Linked DNA regions of Homo sapiens. The protein of the gene in region 1 interacts with the protein of each later gene in a pairwise test. Each region holds a gene or a part of one and is shown in the gene's direction. Other genes may lie near its edges.

Region 1 (7,499 bases):
CCTGGTACCCCATCCCCATCGCAGGATGTTCTCTACGAGTTCCGCCTCGTGGCCTTCGCGGGCAGCTTCGTCAGCGACCCCAGCAACACGGCCAACGTCTCCACTTCCGGTGAGCACCTGGCGTGAGGGAGGAGCCCCAGGGCTGCTCCGAGTCCACTGACCCTCCCTCGTGGACCCCTGCCTAGGTCTGGAGGTCTACCCTTCGCGCACGCAGCTGCCGGGCCTCCTGCCTCAGCCCGTGCTGGCCGGCGTGGTGGGCGGAGTCTGCTTTCTGGGAGTGGCCGTCCTTGTGAGCATCCTGGCCGGCTGCCTCCTGAACCGGCGCAGGGCTGCCCGCCGCCGCCGCAAGCGCCTCCGCCAAGGTAAGTCCCTCCACCCTCAGCCCTGCTACTGCGCACTTGGGCCTAGCCTCCTTAAGCCCCTCCTACCTGGGGGAAAAGCCCTCGCTCCTGTGTGATCCAGGTGCATTCTCTTAGTCCTGCATCTGGTCCTGCCTACGCTTTTCCCAGCCGGATGGGGTTGGGCGCCTGGTGTTGGGTGAGAGAGTCTCCGCCTAGAGGGCCTTGATTTTTGCCTGTGTCACCTACTATTCTCATGCCCTTCCAGATCCACCTCTTATCTTCTCTCCGACCGGGAAGTCAGCTGCACCGTAAGTGCCTCCACCTCCTTGGCTTTCTTCTGCCTTTCCATTGTACGTGCCAGTATCTTCTGCTTCCTTTTTTGCATCTTTACCAGGGGGATGTTGGGTGTTGGGGAGGAACAAAAGTGGGAGAGGGTAAGAAGGGGTGTGCAGTGGCCCCAGCCTGAGGCCGTTCCAGTATGGCCTGTGCCTTCCCTCCACCCCTCCACCTTGTTGGTCCTTTCCTCGCTTGTTCTTCCTAGCTCTGCTCTGTTGTTCACCAAACCTCTCAAGGCCTGACGCTGGCTCCTGGGAGGGGGACCTGCCCCTACCACAGACCCTGATCTCCTGTCCTTCCCCAGCTCTGCTCTGGGCTCAGGCAGTCCTGACAGCGTGGCGAAGCTGAAGCTCCAGGGATCCCCAGTCCCCAGCCTGCGCCAGAGTCTGCTCTGGGGGGATCCTGCCGGAACTCCCAGCCCCCACCCGGATCCTCCATCTAGCCGGGGACCCTTACCTCTGGAGCCCATTTGCCGGGGCCCAGACGGGCGCTTTGTGATGGGGCCCACTGTGGCGGCCCCCCAGGAAAGGTCAGGCCGGGAGCAGGCAGAACCTCGGACTCCAGCCCAGCGTCTGGCCCGGTCCTTTGACTGTAGCAGCAGCAGCCCCAGTGGGGCACCCCAGCCCCTCTGCATTGAAGACATCAGCCCTGTGGCACCCCCTCCAGCAGCCCCACCCAGTCCCTTGCCAGGTCCTGGACCCCTGCTCCAGTACCTGAGCCTGCCCTTCTTCCGAGAGATGAATGTGGATGGGGACTGGCCCCCGCTTGAGGAGCCCAGCCCTGCTGCACCCCCAGATTACATGGATACCCGGCGCTGTCCCACCTCATCTTTCCTTCGTTCTCCAGAAACCCCTCCTGTATCCCCCAGGGAATCACTTCCTGGGGCTGTGGTAGGGGCTGGGGCCACTGCAGAGCCCCCTTACACAGCCCTGGCTGACTGGACACTGAGGGAGCGGCTGCTGCCAGGCCTTCTCCCTGCTGCCCCTCGAGGCAGCCTCACCAGCCAGAGCAGTGGGCGAGGCAGCGCTTCGTTCCTGCGGCCCCCCTCCACAGCCCCCTCTGCAGGAGGCAGCTACCTCAGCCCTGCTCCAGGAGACACCAGCAGCTGGGCCAGTGGCCCTGAGAGATGGCCCCGAAGGGAGCATGTGGTGACAGTCAGCAAGAGGTGAGAGCAGTCCCTGCCCATCCCTGCCTCCGCCTCAGTCCCACCCCAGACCTCTCACCCCTCTCCCAATACCCTGCACCTTCTCTGCTCCACTCCCACCCTGGGAACGGGAAAACTTGTCCCTTTTAGAAGCTTTTGCTGAGGTCCAGGGATTTTTCAGGGGAAACCCATGACCTAACGTGAGTTTGCGGTCGCTGAATTCAGACTTTTCTGAACAGCCTCTATTCCTCCACCCACACCATATGTTTGTCTTTTTTTTTTTTTTTACAGGAGGAACACATCTGTGGACGAGAACTATGAGTGGGACTCAGAATTCCCTGGGGACATGGAATTGCTGGAGACTTTGCACCTGGGCTTGGCCAGCTCCCGGCTCAGACCTGAAGCTGAGCCAGAGCTAGGTGTGTGAGCCCCCCGGAAAGGCAGGCATCTCGGCCATACTGTCCCACATCCCCCCGCCACCTTAGGACCCATCTATTCCCAGTCAGGCCCTGCCTCCCAGGCTCCTCTGCTCTAGACTGTGCCTTGCCCCCTTGGGCCATCTGTACTGGAAGGGCCTAGCGAGCTTCACATCTGAGCTCTTCACTCAGTGAACCTCAGGGCTTCTTCTCATTGTCCTGCCCGCCTCTTGCAGGTGTGAAGACTCCAGAGGAGGGCTGCCTCCTGAACACTGCCCATGTTACTGGCCCTGAGGCCCGCTGTGCTGCCCTTCGGGAGGAATTCCTGGCCTTCCGCCGCCGCCGAGATGCTACTAGGGCTCGGCTACCAGCCTATCGACAGCCAGTCCCCCACCCCGAACAGGCCACTCTGCTGTGAACATCCCTGATGTGAGGCTGTGAAAAGGCATATGGACCTGCAAAGGAGGCCCCCAACCAGACAGACCTAGTTTCAAACGAGGGCACTGCCCCTGCCTGCCCCTTTGGTGCCCAGGCACAGACCCTGATAGTGGGTTTGGGTCACCTTGGTATGGAATGTATGTGCTGACCCCCTAGGTGAGTCTGGGGATTGGAACAGGGATCTTAGGTCTGCCTCTCTCTCTCTCTCTCTCTCTCTCTCTCTCTCTGTGTGTGTGTGTGTGTGTGTGAAGTTTTTTACAGGTGAATAAACAAAGTTTGAAAGATGTTTCTGTGTGTTATCTGTCTTTGAGAGAGTGCCAGGAAAATCCCTGGACCCTTAAAGAAGAGGAGAATCTTCTTGAATAAATGGAGGTGCATTCAGCATTCATTCAAGAACATTTATTGAGTGCTTACGGAGGCCAGCTACTAAAGGCCAGCCACTGAAGTAGATACTGAGAAAATACAAAGCTCTGGAAGCACGCCTTTGCCCTTGAGGAGTTCTTTCTAGTCAGTGAGGCGGACAAAGAAATAGTTACCGTATGATAAGTTCCGTGATAAAGCTATGTGTTGGTTATTGTAGCACAAAGGAAGATGTTGCATTCAAGGCCACCTTTAGTGAACGCTAATATCGTGTGCTGGGACAAATGCCACATATTGGGGGGGAGTCCTCAGGACCCTCACAGATAGATGGTGGTAATAATAGTATTCACTATGTGCCAGGCACTGCTCTAAGCCCTATAGGTGGACTGTTTAGTTCTCTACAATTCTATGAATTAGGTAGTACTATTAGCTCTGTTCTATAGACCAGGGAACTCAAGCATAGAATGCACAACAGTCACACAGCAGGTAAAGGGTAGAGCAGGTGGGGAGCCAGTCAAGGAAGGGAAACTGTCCTAGGCAGAGGAATAGCCTTTGTAAAGGCACAGAAGAGTGAGAATGCTTGACAATCAGTGGGACTGGAATATAGGGCTGTGTAGGACTCGGGGAGGGAACAGAGAATAATAGAAAGGTTGGACAGGACTGGATATTGACATCCTGGAATCTCAGGTTCAAGGGAGGACTCTATCATGTGTGCAGAACTCCACCCCGGGGGACTCTATTCAACTGAAGCCTGAAAGGATGGGGGGCTCTTTCTCCACCCCTGAACTGTGCTGTCCTCCACCCTCAGAGACAAAAGAACCCCAGCCAGCCTCCTCGCGCTGAGGTCTCCCCCTCTGATCCCTCCAGGATTTAGGAAGAGATACCAGGTCATAGAAAAGGAGATGAAAGGCAGGGAGAAGACAGGTCTGAGCCCTGGGTCCCAACACCGAAAACACCCCTAGGGCCCTGGGCAGAGTGACCTCACTGTTAGTCCCTGCCCAGGCTTGAAGTAAGAGGTGAGCAAGATCACGTGGGGGTGCTGTCCCGGCCTGCAAGTCCCAGTCCTGTCACACACTAGTCAGTTGGGGTCGGGGGAAGGCCTTCCTGTGCCTCCTTTTACCTTGCCAGCCTCTAAACTAGGAGGCTTCTTCCTACATAAACACGCCCACAGTGTTTAGCTAACTTTCTAGGCAGAAAGTTTCCTACTGGGGCACAAGTCTACGGGCTCTCGGTGGAGGCTGAGGTACTCACGGGTGGAGACCACTGCAGCCGCCTTTGTAGATTCAGACTCCCCGAACCTTTAACCCTTGCTCTGGTCTACTGTCCCTCTGTCTCAAGCAGTCCTCCCTCCTTCTGCGCTGCGGCGCCTTTAAACCTTCTTGGCCCTTGCCCCGCCCCGGGTCCGCCCCGTCTGAGGCGGGACCCTCCTGAAAATCCCCGGCTGGGCAGGGCGCACCACTTGCAGCTGCAGCCCTTGCCTTGAGTCAGTGCGCCGCTCTCCAGCCCGCTTGAACGGTGAGCAGGTCGGGGGTACGGGGGTCGGGGACATGTGCGTGCTGTGTAGAAAGCAAGAAGCCAGCGCTTTGAACTTGCTCCAGCGAGCTCGGGGATCAAGGGCTGGTACCAGGCAAGGGTCCGGTGACTACTTTACCCCGCCCCGTGCTGTCAGGTCCTGTCCCCAAGCCCTGACCCGACATTGTTGGACGATGAGGTCAGGCGAGGTTAGCCCATGCATAGACAGGGCGTCCGTCTGGAGCAGGGACTCAGGGACTGAGCCCCACCCGCGGGCTCCATCGCTGAGTCCTCACTGGGGCGAGGGGAAAAAAGGGCGTCGGACTTTAGCTGGCTGGCCCCGAGTGACCCCGGGTCGTGGCGCCGGCCCTGGGCCAGCTCGTGCTCCTGGGCTTTCCCGCGCGACCCTTCACTTCCTGGTTCCAGGAGCACGTGTGAGCACTGCGTGCCCTCTGAGTCCCCGAGGCCGCCCTTTTCATTCCTGTTCCTGCTAGCTTGCTATTCTGGGGACTTGAGGTCACGGGCTGGGGCTAGGGGGCTCTGCATGGGTCGCACGGTGACCTTCTGTGAAGCTCCAGTCATCTCTATGACGGTCCCCTGACCTCGGGGGTCTGGGTGCTGCAGCCCTGACTGCGCCCCGGGGTGCCCTGTGTGAGGTTGTGGGGGTGGTGGTGGCTGCTTTTACCCTGCCCGAGCGCCGCTGCCCCCACCGGGTGCCCCCTGCTGCTGGGAAAGCCGGTGGTGGCCGCGGGCGGACGGGCGGGCTGCCCAGACCACTGCGTCACCCCAGCGGCGGGAGGGCGGTGGGTGACTCATCTGTTGTAACGGCCCAGGGTGTGGTCGTGGGGGTGGGGGGCGGCGGCTGGGAGGCCGGACCTGCAGGACCGGAGGTGGACTGCCGCCTCCCCCCGCGCCCTGTGCCTCCTGGGGCTACCTGAAGCCGGTGTCCTGGGAGATCTGTGAGCAGTTGGTATCTGTGGGGCAGAGAGAAACGGGGTGAGAGTGGGGATGGAGTGTGGGATTCGATGTAGAAGACCTGCGGCTGGGACGGGGCTCCCCCAGTGTTCTCATTGACTTCAAAGCACCAGACAGCAATGGCTCTCTATCTCTAGCCCCCTCCCAGTTTCTCCTCCCCACTACAAGGGGCAGACCTACAACTGCAGAGGAGGCCAAGGCAGGGCGGGCCCAGTAGGGCCCTACCATTCCAGAACCAACAAATAGGTTTTGTCCAACCGCAACTCCCTCCCTCACCCCAAGGCCTCTGCCCCTGTCCCCCACCCCGGGATTGGCCCCTAATCCTTTCTTCATTCCATCCCTTCTCCCTCCAGAATTTTCAGCTGTGGGTTCTCTAGCTCAGAACACTTTCCCTTCCCAGGGGATTTCTTCTCCTGAACAACTACTTCCTGAGTCCTCTTCTTCACCCCAACACGGGTCATTTCCTATCTTCCCCCACACGCTGTCCATCCCCACTATAGCTGTCTCCTGGAATAATCTCTTGCACCTGGCTACACCCGAGCACTGCTGAGACGATCCCACTTCTGCTCCCGTGCTCACAGCCTGCTCACCACAACGTCTGTGTTGACAGGGTGTTTCTGCCCGGAGCCCCCACCCAGCCTCCAACACTGTTTGGTACACAGAAGCCATGGCAACGGCCCCCACCTCATCCCCTCCTCCCACGCAAGCTTTGGAGCTTCCTGTTTGTGTAGCCTCAGCTTTCTCTTCTGCTCCTGACTCTCGGTGGTGAGGGGCTGCCCTACGGTGGTTCCCTTAATTGTGGGCCGCCCCCCATCCTTGCTGCTGGCTGTGGCACCTCGCTCTGTGGGCTGGTGCCCTCACTGTGCTGCTCTTTGAGAACACTCCCTGTCCCAAATCTGAGTTGGGAAGTTCTCCTGTGTTCCATCTGCACGGTGGATGGAGAGTCCCTTTGTCTTCCCAATTAAACACCCTAGCCAAGAACCCTGAAGTCCTCCCTGCCCCCACCCATGTCCGCCTTTTCTTTGGCTTTGGCTTTGGTGAGGTAAGCTTCCAGCCCAGGGTCTGGGTGGGGCCGAGTGCCTTGCGTGGCCCCTCCCCGTTTCCCGCCTATTGTAACTCCAGGGTGAGGGTGAGGGTTGTTCTCACAGCTGCAGTAGCGCTAGGGTTTAGGTTGCTCCCTGCCAGTCCATCCCCCAGGTTGTTCAGCTGTCACCTTCCTTTGGGGTCCCCAGCTCTGGGGGTCCCCCACACCTGTCTTCCAGCTGGGCATATCTCTTCTCACCCTGGTAGGCAACTTGCTTACTGTTTTCTTTATGTTTGAGGGAAGGCAGGGGCAGGTCCCCTGGGTGTCCCTAGGGTGGGCCTTCCCAGCTCCAGCAGCCGCAGCCCATCAGCTTCTGCCTGCCCGTGGGGGTGGGGAAGAGAAACAGCTGCTGACCAGGCCTGGCCTGGTTGGAACTGCCCCTTCTCAGGACCCCGCCCTATGGCTCTGGCACCTCAGAGCTTGAGGGCAATGGCCCCAGAGTGGAGCAGATACACTGCAGCTGGAGGCCGTGACCCTGCCAGCTGTGTCCAGGCCCCAGCGTTGGGCGGTGGAGGGGGTTCCTCAGCATCCACTTTCCACCCAGTGGTGGGTCTGGGAGGCCAAGTTTGTCCTGCCTTGGGGGGTTGGGGGGCACTGGAAGTGTCTGGCTTCAGGCCTTTCTCTCTGCTCTTAACCCCAGTGTCTAGGTTAATCATTCTCCTGCCCTTTCTTTACCTGTGCCATGGTGATCCCCGAGCCTCAGGCCACTTGGTCCCTGGAAACAGCCCTGAGCACAGCCACTCCCAGGAGAGAGGTCTGGAACTGGGCTGCGGAAAGGGGGCTTACTGGTGGTAGTAGCTCTTAGCCCCTTCCTCTTCCTACCTGTCTTCCAGCCATTCCCCTGTGCATCAGAGGTTAGAGGTTTCTATGGTGGAGTGGCCTCTGGGAAGGGC
Region 2 (6,970 bases), on another chromosome or scaffold:
GGTATAGTAGTAAATATTTAACAACCAACTTTCTGGGAAAAAGTTAAACATGATAGCATTTACCGATTTCTGTAAATAGTTCTACCATGGCCAATTTCAAGTCACTAACATGACATCACTGAACAGAGAGGAAGAGATATGCAAGTAGCACATCCTTATATACTGTTTGCCTTGTATGGATATGATAGACACAAATAAACTCAGGAGTATAGATAATAATACACATAATTAGGAAGTGATGAGTTTTAAGTATTTGCTAGTTTTATTTTTAAAATTATTTATCTATTTATTTATTTTTGAGATGGAGTCTGTCGCCCAGGCTGGAGTGCAGTGGCGTGATCTTGGCTTACTGTAAGCTGCGCCTCCCGGGTTCACACCACTCTCCTGCCTCAGCCTCCCGAGTAGCTGGGACTACAGGCACTCGCCACCACGCCTGGCTAATTTTTTAGTAGAGACAGGGTTTCACCGTGTTAGCCAGGATGGTCTTGATCTCCTGACCTCGTGATCCGCCCACCTCAGCCTCCTGAAGTGCTGGGATTACAGGCATGAGCCACCGTGCCCGGCGGAAATAATTCATTTAAATGCAACTCAGTTTGATTTAATTTTGATTAATAGCTGAGTTGAACATCCACTTTGCAAATTCCTGAAAATTTAACAATCAGCTATCATGAGCCAGTGGGGGCACCACCCTGGATATAATGGTAATTGTGTTAGTATGGTACTAGTTATGGTAAAGATTATCACCTCTTCTGGGAAGCCTATCTGTGTTAGGTGCCTTTCTCTATATTCCTACTATAACTTTCTAGATGTCACAGCAAGTACCACACTGTGTTGGGATCTCATTTCTCTGCCTTCACACTTGATTTCCCTAAGGCCAGTGACTGTGACTGACTTTGAACTCTGTATCTTCTCTATCTAGCACTTAAGGCTCAAAAAATGTATATTGAAAACAAATTTACCTGGACCTGGCTCCTGTCCTCAAGGAGCCCACAATGATCATGTCTATGATCTACAAAAACCATAGACACAGAATACACAGTGTAGTAGGAGCTCTGAATAAACATGTGAAAGGATAATAAGGTTTTTATATTACCAACAGTGGCTTTTATTGGGATGGGAAAAAAGTGATTATAGATCATTGGAAGTAGATGTAGCAGTTCTATTGTGATAAAACAAACACATTTTTCCTTATGTCATCTATTTAATGATATTCTTTTAGTGTTCACACCTTTAACAGGTAAAAGCAACACACATTCATTATAAAACAATTAGAGTATACAGAATCATAAAGAAATAAAAGCCACCTATATTTTACAAGATTGATGTATTGATGAGGATAGGTTAAGACAATAGCATCCAGAAAGCACCAAATAACAGTGCCTTACACAAGATCCTTTTTTTCCTTTTCAAGTAAAAGTTTGGAGGTTTGCAGACCCAAGTTGGTGTGGGTTCTGCTCCTCAGTGTCTTTAGAAGCTCAATTTTCCCCAAGTTCATGGCCCAGCTGTTCCTAAGGCGTGGCCCCATTCTTCATGGTCCAGGTCAGAATCCATCCTCTCTGAAGCAGGATGGAGGATGGGATGAAGAAGAGGCACAGGGCTAATTGTCTCTTTAAGAAAGATTCCCAGCACTTGCCCTGTGGCACATCCATGACTTTCCCCTTGTTAGAAGATAGTTAGGAGACCATGTTTTGCTGCAATAGAGCCTAGGAAATACAGTCTTTATTCTCAGCAGTCATGTGCTCAGCTAAAATTTCTATTACCACGGAAGAAGGGAAAAATAGGTAGGATCAACTGTCAGAATTTGTCAGAATTATTTCCTTAAATTGCAAATAGAGGAATTTCTAGGTTAGAAGTTATGCCCATTTTCACGATTCTTGAAGCATATTGATACATTTGCCTTCAGAAGTTCTGTGCATGTTTACACTCCCAATGAGATCTATGAATGCTTTGTACTAAACACCAAGTAATCAAGTCATTCAGTGTTTCTTCTATGGCTTTGCTGTGGGCAGGATGTGATGGAGAAAAGTGTTGTGTTTGAGGGACCAGGGCTTTATTGTCAGGACTTTTTCAGCTGCAGGTGACACATGGCTTATCACGAGTACTGGAATTTATTCAAATATTTAGGATGATTTAGTATTAAGGTTGGTGCAAAAGTAAGCGTGGTGTTTGCTATTGAAGGTAATGGAATAGAAAACTAGGAATCTGAAGGTGGATAATTAAAAAATGAAGTTCTGAAGAGGAATGGGAGAGGAGGATTATATGGGTAGTTGTAAAAATTTTGAGACCTACAGAGAGAGGATGAAATGTAATATAATGCCCTCCTAATGTCAGTGAAGGGGCTTTTACACATATGTTTTTATCAATGGCTACATTCCAGGCAATACCCTAGGTGCTTTATATATATCCTTTCTTGAATTCCCACAGCCATCTGGGTAGGCATATAATTTTTATGTATCCATTTTTTACACACAATGAAGTCAAAGCTCAAGAAAGCTCAAGTTAGGGTAGAGCTAGAATTTAAACCCCACTCTGTCCGATTTCAAAGTTTTCCTCTTTCCGCTCTTACTCTTAAGTGTGAACTGATAAAAACAATTTTGGCAAGGAATTCACCTTTTCTATAGCACTTGAATTAACTGAAGGATATAAAAGACATTATGAAATCTTAAAAAATTATGAAAGAATTACAGAGAGTAACAAATGAAGTACTGTAAAGGCAAGGAAGAACCTCATGAGATTTTGTCTTTTCCAGGGGCCCTTCTCTGACCTGGGTTGGCTGCCTGCCCCTCCTTTCTCATAGTACTCTGTGTTCACCCTAAGACAGTTCTCATCTTTATTGTGATTGTCTATTTCCTTGGTCGTCTCTACTGCCAGATTATATCTTGAGTGTTAGATATTAGATTTCACACATCTTTATATTACCAGGAGCCAGCACAATGTCTGGAACAGTGTAGGTGCTCAATAAATATTTGCCAGATAAATTATACAGGCATTTATTCTATGGTCATATTTATACATATTACTGAAAGAGATTTTTAAAATCAACTTACTATATGATGCCAAATTTTTAAAGACATACAATAATAACTAGACTAATATAAAATTATGATTCTGACTATGGTTATAACAGAATGTTTATAAGACAACTGAACCTGTGACTAAGACTGAGTGCCTACAACGTGACAGGGTGTTCTGAGTGTTTAACATTTTATTATTAATTTTTCACAAAAATCTTATGAGGGAAACAATAAAATTATTATTCTTACTTAGAAAATGGAAAAACCAGGATATGAACTTAGGCAGTACTGTTGTAGAATTTTTGTGTTTAACAACTAGGCTATTTTATATCGCCATTGTTTATTAGCTGTTTATGACAAAAACAGTTTTTTTGCATGACTCCATAGTGGTATTTTTTTTTCTTTTACAAAGCACAGTTTAATTATCAAAATCAAGTACTTACTGTTTATACAAGACTATTCTCTAATCTACAGCAGTTAGTCAAATTTGTGGAATTAGTCCACTAATGTCATAGTAGCATCTTCTAATGAAAGCTCATAGATCCTTTTCCTGTTGCTTTGCTTGTCGACCGGAACTTCCTTTCCAACAAAGGAACAGGCTCCAAGAGCAACCCTCAGTATCTTGGGAAATTGCTGCTTTTATACCTGAGCAACCTCCAAACCGAAGAGTAATTTGCTATCATCATTCTTCCTTACTGCCCTTCATAACCAGGGTCTCATATTTTTTATTTTTTCTTCTAAAAAAAAAAACAAACCCAAAAAACAACCGTTCAATTGCACCTCCCAGGTGCACTCCCAGGCTTGCCAGGGGCTTTCCAGTCGCAGACCCCGCGTGTTCGCAGACTCTGCCGCCGGCGAAACTACATTTCCCAGCGGGCCGCGCGCCCTCCTTCCGGCAGGTACCCCTCAAAACCCGGAAACGCCTTGCGGGGCAGTGTGGGAGGGAGAAGTCCAGGGCGGACAGGCTGGGCGCACCCGTGCTCGCGCACCCCAAGATGGCTGAGAGGCAGGAAGAGCAGAGAGGGAGCCCGCCCTTGAGGGCGGAAGGCAAGGCCGACGCGGAGGTTAAGCTCATTCTGTACCATTGGACGCATTCCTTCAGCTCTCAAAAGGTACAACAGGCCTTGGCGGCGGAGGGTGGCGCGGATCGGGCTTCAGCACTGGGACAGCTCCTTCTGAGTCCCGCCCAGGGAAGCCGGTCCACCTAGAAATCCGCCTCCAGTGTCCTGACCCCGGGCAGGCGCTCCCTCCAGGCGGGGACGCGCCCGGGTGGGGAGCGGGGAGAATCGATCGGAGATGATCCTATGTGGCTATGGCCCAGGCTCCGCCTCTCGCGAAATGCGACAAAAAAGCATCATTTTCAGTATTTGGTCTGGAGGCCTTGCCTGCTGGTCTTCGGAGAGAGGCAGAGGGAGGTGCCTTTGTGGACCCTCATAATCTGCGATCTCTTCTTTTGCTCTCTCGCATTCACTGTCTTCAGCAAGAGCTGATGTACCTACATGTCAGGTTCTTGTCTGGGGAGGACCCATAATCAGGTTTAGGACACCGAGAAAGTGGTAGTGATGAGGAGGGTGACTGTTTAATGAATACAGTCAGAATCATTTCATTACTTATTTTGTGTTCTTCTCTTAATTTGTTGAGTATTGTTCTTTCCTTACTTGTTAATTCCAGGAATAGGAATTGTTAAAACGACTGTTGAAAATGTCGGTAACACAGGGAAGCCCAGAAAGGCTGCTTAGCGGTGTCCAGGGAAGTCATTTAATTGAAAGCTTACATGTGTTGTAGTAACCAGTGTGAACTCTTCCAGGTGCGCTTGGTAATTGCTGAAAAGGCATTGAAGTGCGAGGAACATGATGTAAGTCTGCCCTTGAGTGAGCACAATGAGCCTTGGTTTATGCGTTTGAACTCAACTGGAGAAGTGCCTGTCCTTATCCACGGGGAAAACATAATTTGTGAGGCCACTCAGATCATTGATTATCTTGAACAGACTTTCCTGGATGGTAATGTTAAGGCTACTTGCGATTTCTTGGATTTACTTTCAACACAACTATGTGTTCCCTTTCTCTTTTTCTCTCTCTCCTCTCTCTCTTTCTCTTGTGTCATGATGGTGGTTTGGGATTAAAAACCTTTTCCATTTCCATAAGCACACAAATATCAAATAGGTCAATAACAAATTTTGTATAGGCTAGTGTAATGCTATTTAAAATAATTTAATGCAAAATACAAATGTTAATGTTGAAACTTAAAAAAATTCACTTGCAAAAAACTGCAAATGTGTGGTTTGTGTTGGTGATTTCTTAGTCTTAAATTCATAATATTCTAAATGTGCACTGTGACGATTTCATCTAATATACCAAATGGTTTCACCTTAAAAACAAGAGGGAAAAAAGAGCAATAAATCTTAAAGGAGAATAGAATGTTAGTATACCTGAGTTCTTTGCCCCAGTCACTTCTGAATTGTTTGAATTTTATATCTTTACTAAGGAATTATAGGGCTTAAATTTGTATAGTGCATTTAGGTAAATCATTTATTAACAGCTTGTTATGTGTCAGACATTTTATAATTTCTTCAATAATGTCTTCAAAAGTATCTGTCTGAGACAGGCATGGTAGACAAGTTATTCCCATTATGTAAATGAGGAGAAAGCAACAGGGTTGCCCAAAGTAATATAGCTATTGTATGGCAGAGTCTTTGGTCTCCAAAGCCTTCATACTACACTGACTGTCTCCCATAATCCTTGCCACTTACACATTGTCTTGCTTGTTCCTAATAATAATCCTTTGAAGTGAACTGTAGCTTCAAAGAGTTACCAAAGACTACACAGCTGATCACAATGGACATTGATGAGAGCAGAACATGGTGCTCAGAGCTTCCAGCTGAATGCTCTTCTAAAAAGGCTGTATGAGATTGTTACTTTTCATCTGCCACCAGTTATGTTGATGTTAATAGGGTAGGTGAAAGCAGAACCTAGCCCCAAACTACAGGAAGCTGACAAAGGAAATTACTAGGACAAAAAAAAGTCTCATGTACTTAGAAGGAAAATGAGTATTATTAGGCCTAGATGGTGGGCAGTGGCGAGGGGGAAGCCCAGGGAATTAGATTAGCAATGGGCTACCCCTGTTCTTAATCTAAGTGCTAGTCCCCTAGGATTGTGATTGGCGGTTTTAATTAAAGGTAGCTTTAGCGTAAACCAAAGCATTTAATGATGTACTTTCTTTTCATCTTTATTTGCTATTCCTTATAAATTTATATGCTGGGGACTGTACTGAAAATGACAACTAGTTCATTTAAGAGAATTTTTCTCAATCTTGAGCTTTTTGGAAATGGATAAGTGTGTTAATTTGTATTTCTTGGGGGATGTAATTATAATGGAACAAAACAAAATAATTGTGTTAATAAATCTATTTTAAATGATCAAAAACTTTAAAAAGGTATTCTAAATGGAAAATCCCATTTAAGTTTTTTGGTAGCATTGCCTGAACTGCTTCTACTATCATCATTCCCCTCCTCCATCCCCTCCTTACACTGTTTTTCCTCTAAGAAATTCAGTGATATAAATTATATTTACAACATAGTAATGTTACCAATTATTAGGTTTTCTTACAATTTTCCTTAGTCTTTCTCTTTTGCTTTTAGTACAGAATAGTAACAAAGCAGAAATAAGTTCTGTGTCCTGCTAAGTTGTATTTAAATAACCAAACAAAGGAAATGCTAAGTTCTTTTGATTACTTAAGAATTAGAAGAGAAGGCACTGTAGGCTGTGACAGGATGGAAATATGGAAAGTGCAGACTTTAATTCTGGTTGAACTATTATTGTAACTCAGCAATCAAGAGTCCTAGCTTTTAGTCTGATGCTGCCACTAACTTGTTGAATATCTTTCAATCAATTGGGAAGGACGAAAAAACGATTAAGGGACCCAAAACTTATGGTAGATAGGACGACAGCAAGAGAACA

The links. Proteins that work in one complex are often made in the same cells at the same time.
Region 2: the proteins of TAGLN2 (region 1) and GDAP1 interact in binary tests that used the Homo sapiens proteins (3 or more experiments, as listed by UniProt).

Annotation. Positions count from the first base shown.
Region 1 is NC_000001.11:159,922,501-159,929,999, reverse strand, and holds the start of TAGLN2 (transgelin-2), read left to right. Parts: upstream 1-4,492; 5' UTR 4,493-4,550; exon of another isoform or gene 4,551-5,521; intron 5,522-6,048; exon of another isoform or gene 6,049-6,122; intron 6,123-6,265; exon of another isoform or gene 6,266-6,529; coding exon of another isoform or gene 6,530-6,564; intron 6,565-7,499. Other genes in the region: IGSF9 (protein turtle homolog A isoform a precursor), read left to right, coding at 25-109, 186-362, 607-649, 982-1,842, 2,113-2,240, 2,474-2,655.
Region 2 is NC_000008.11:74,346,453-74,353,422, forward strand, and holds the start of GDAP1 (ganglioside-induced differentiation-associated protein 1), read left to right. Parts: upstream 1-3,950; 5' UTR 3,951-4,009; coding exon 4,010-4,126; intron 4,127-4,819; exon of another isoform or gene 4,820-4,821; coding exon 4,822-5,014; intron 5,015-6,970. UniProt on the Homo sapiens protein: Regulates the mitochondrial network by promoting mitochondrial fission.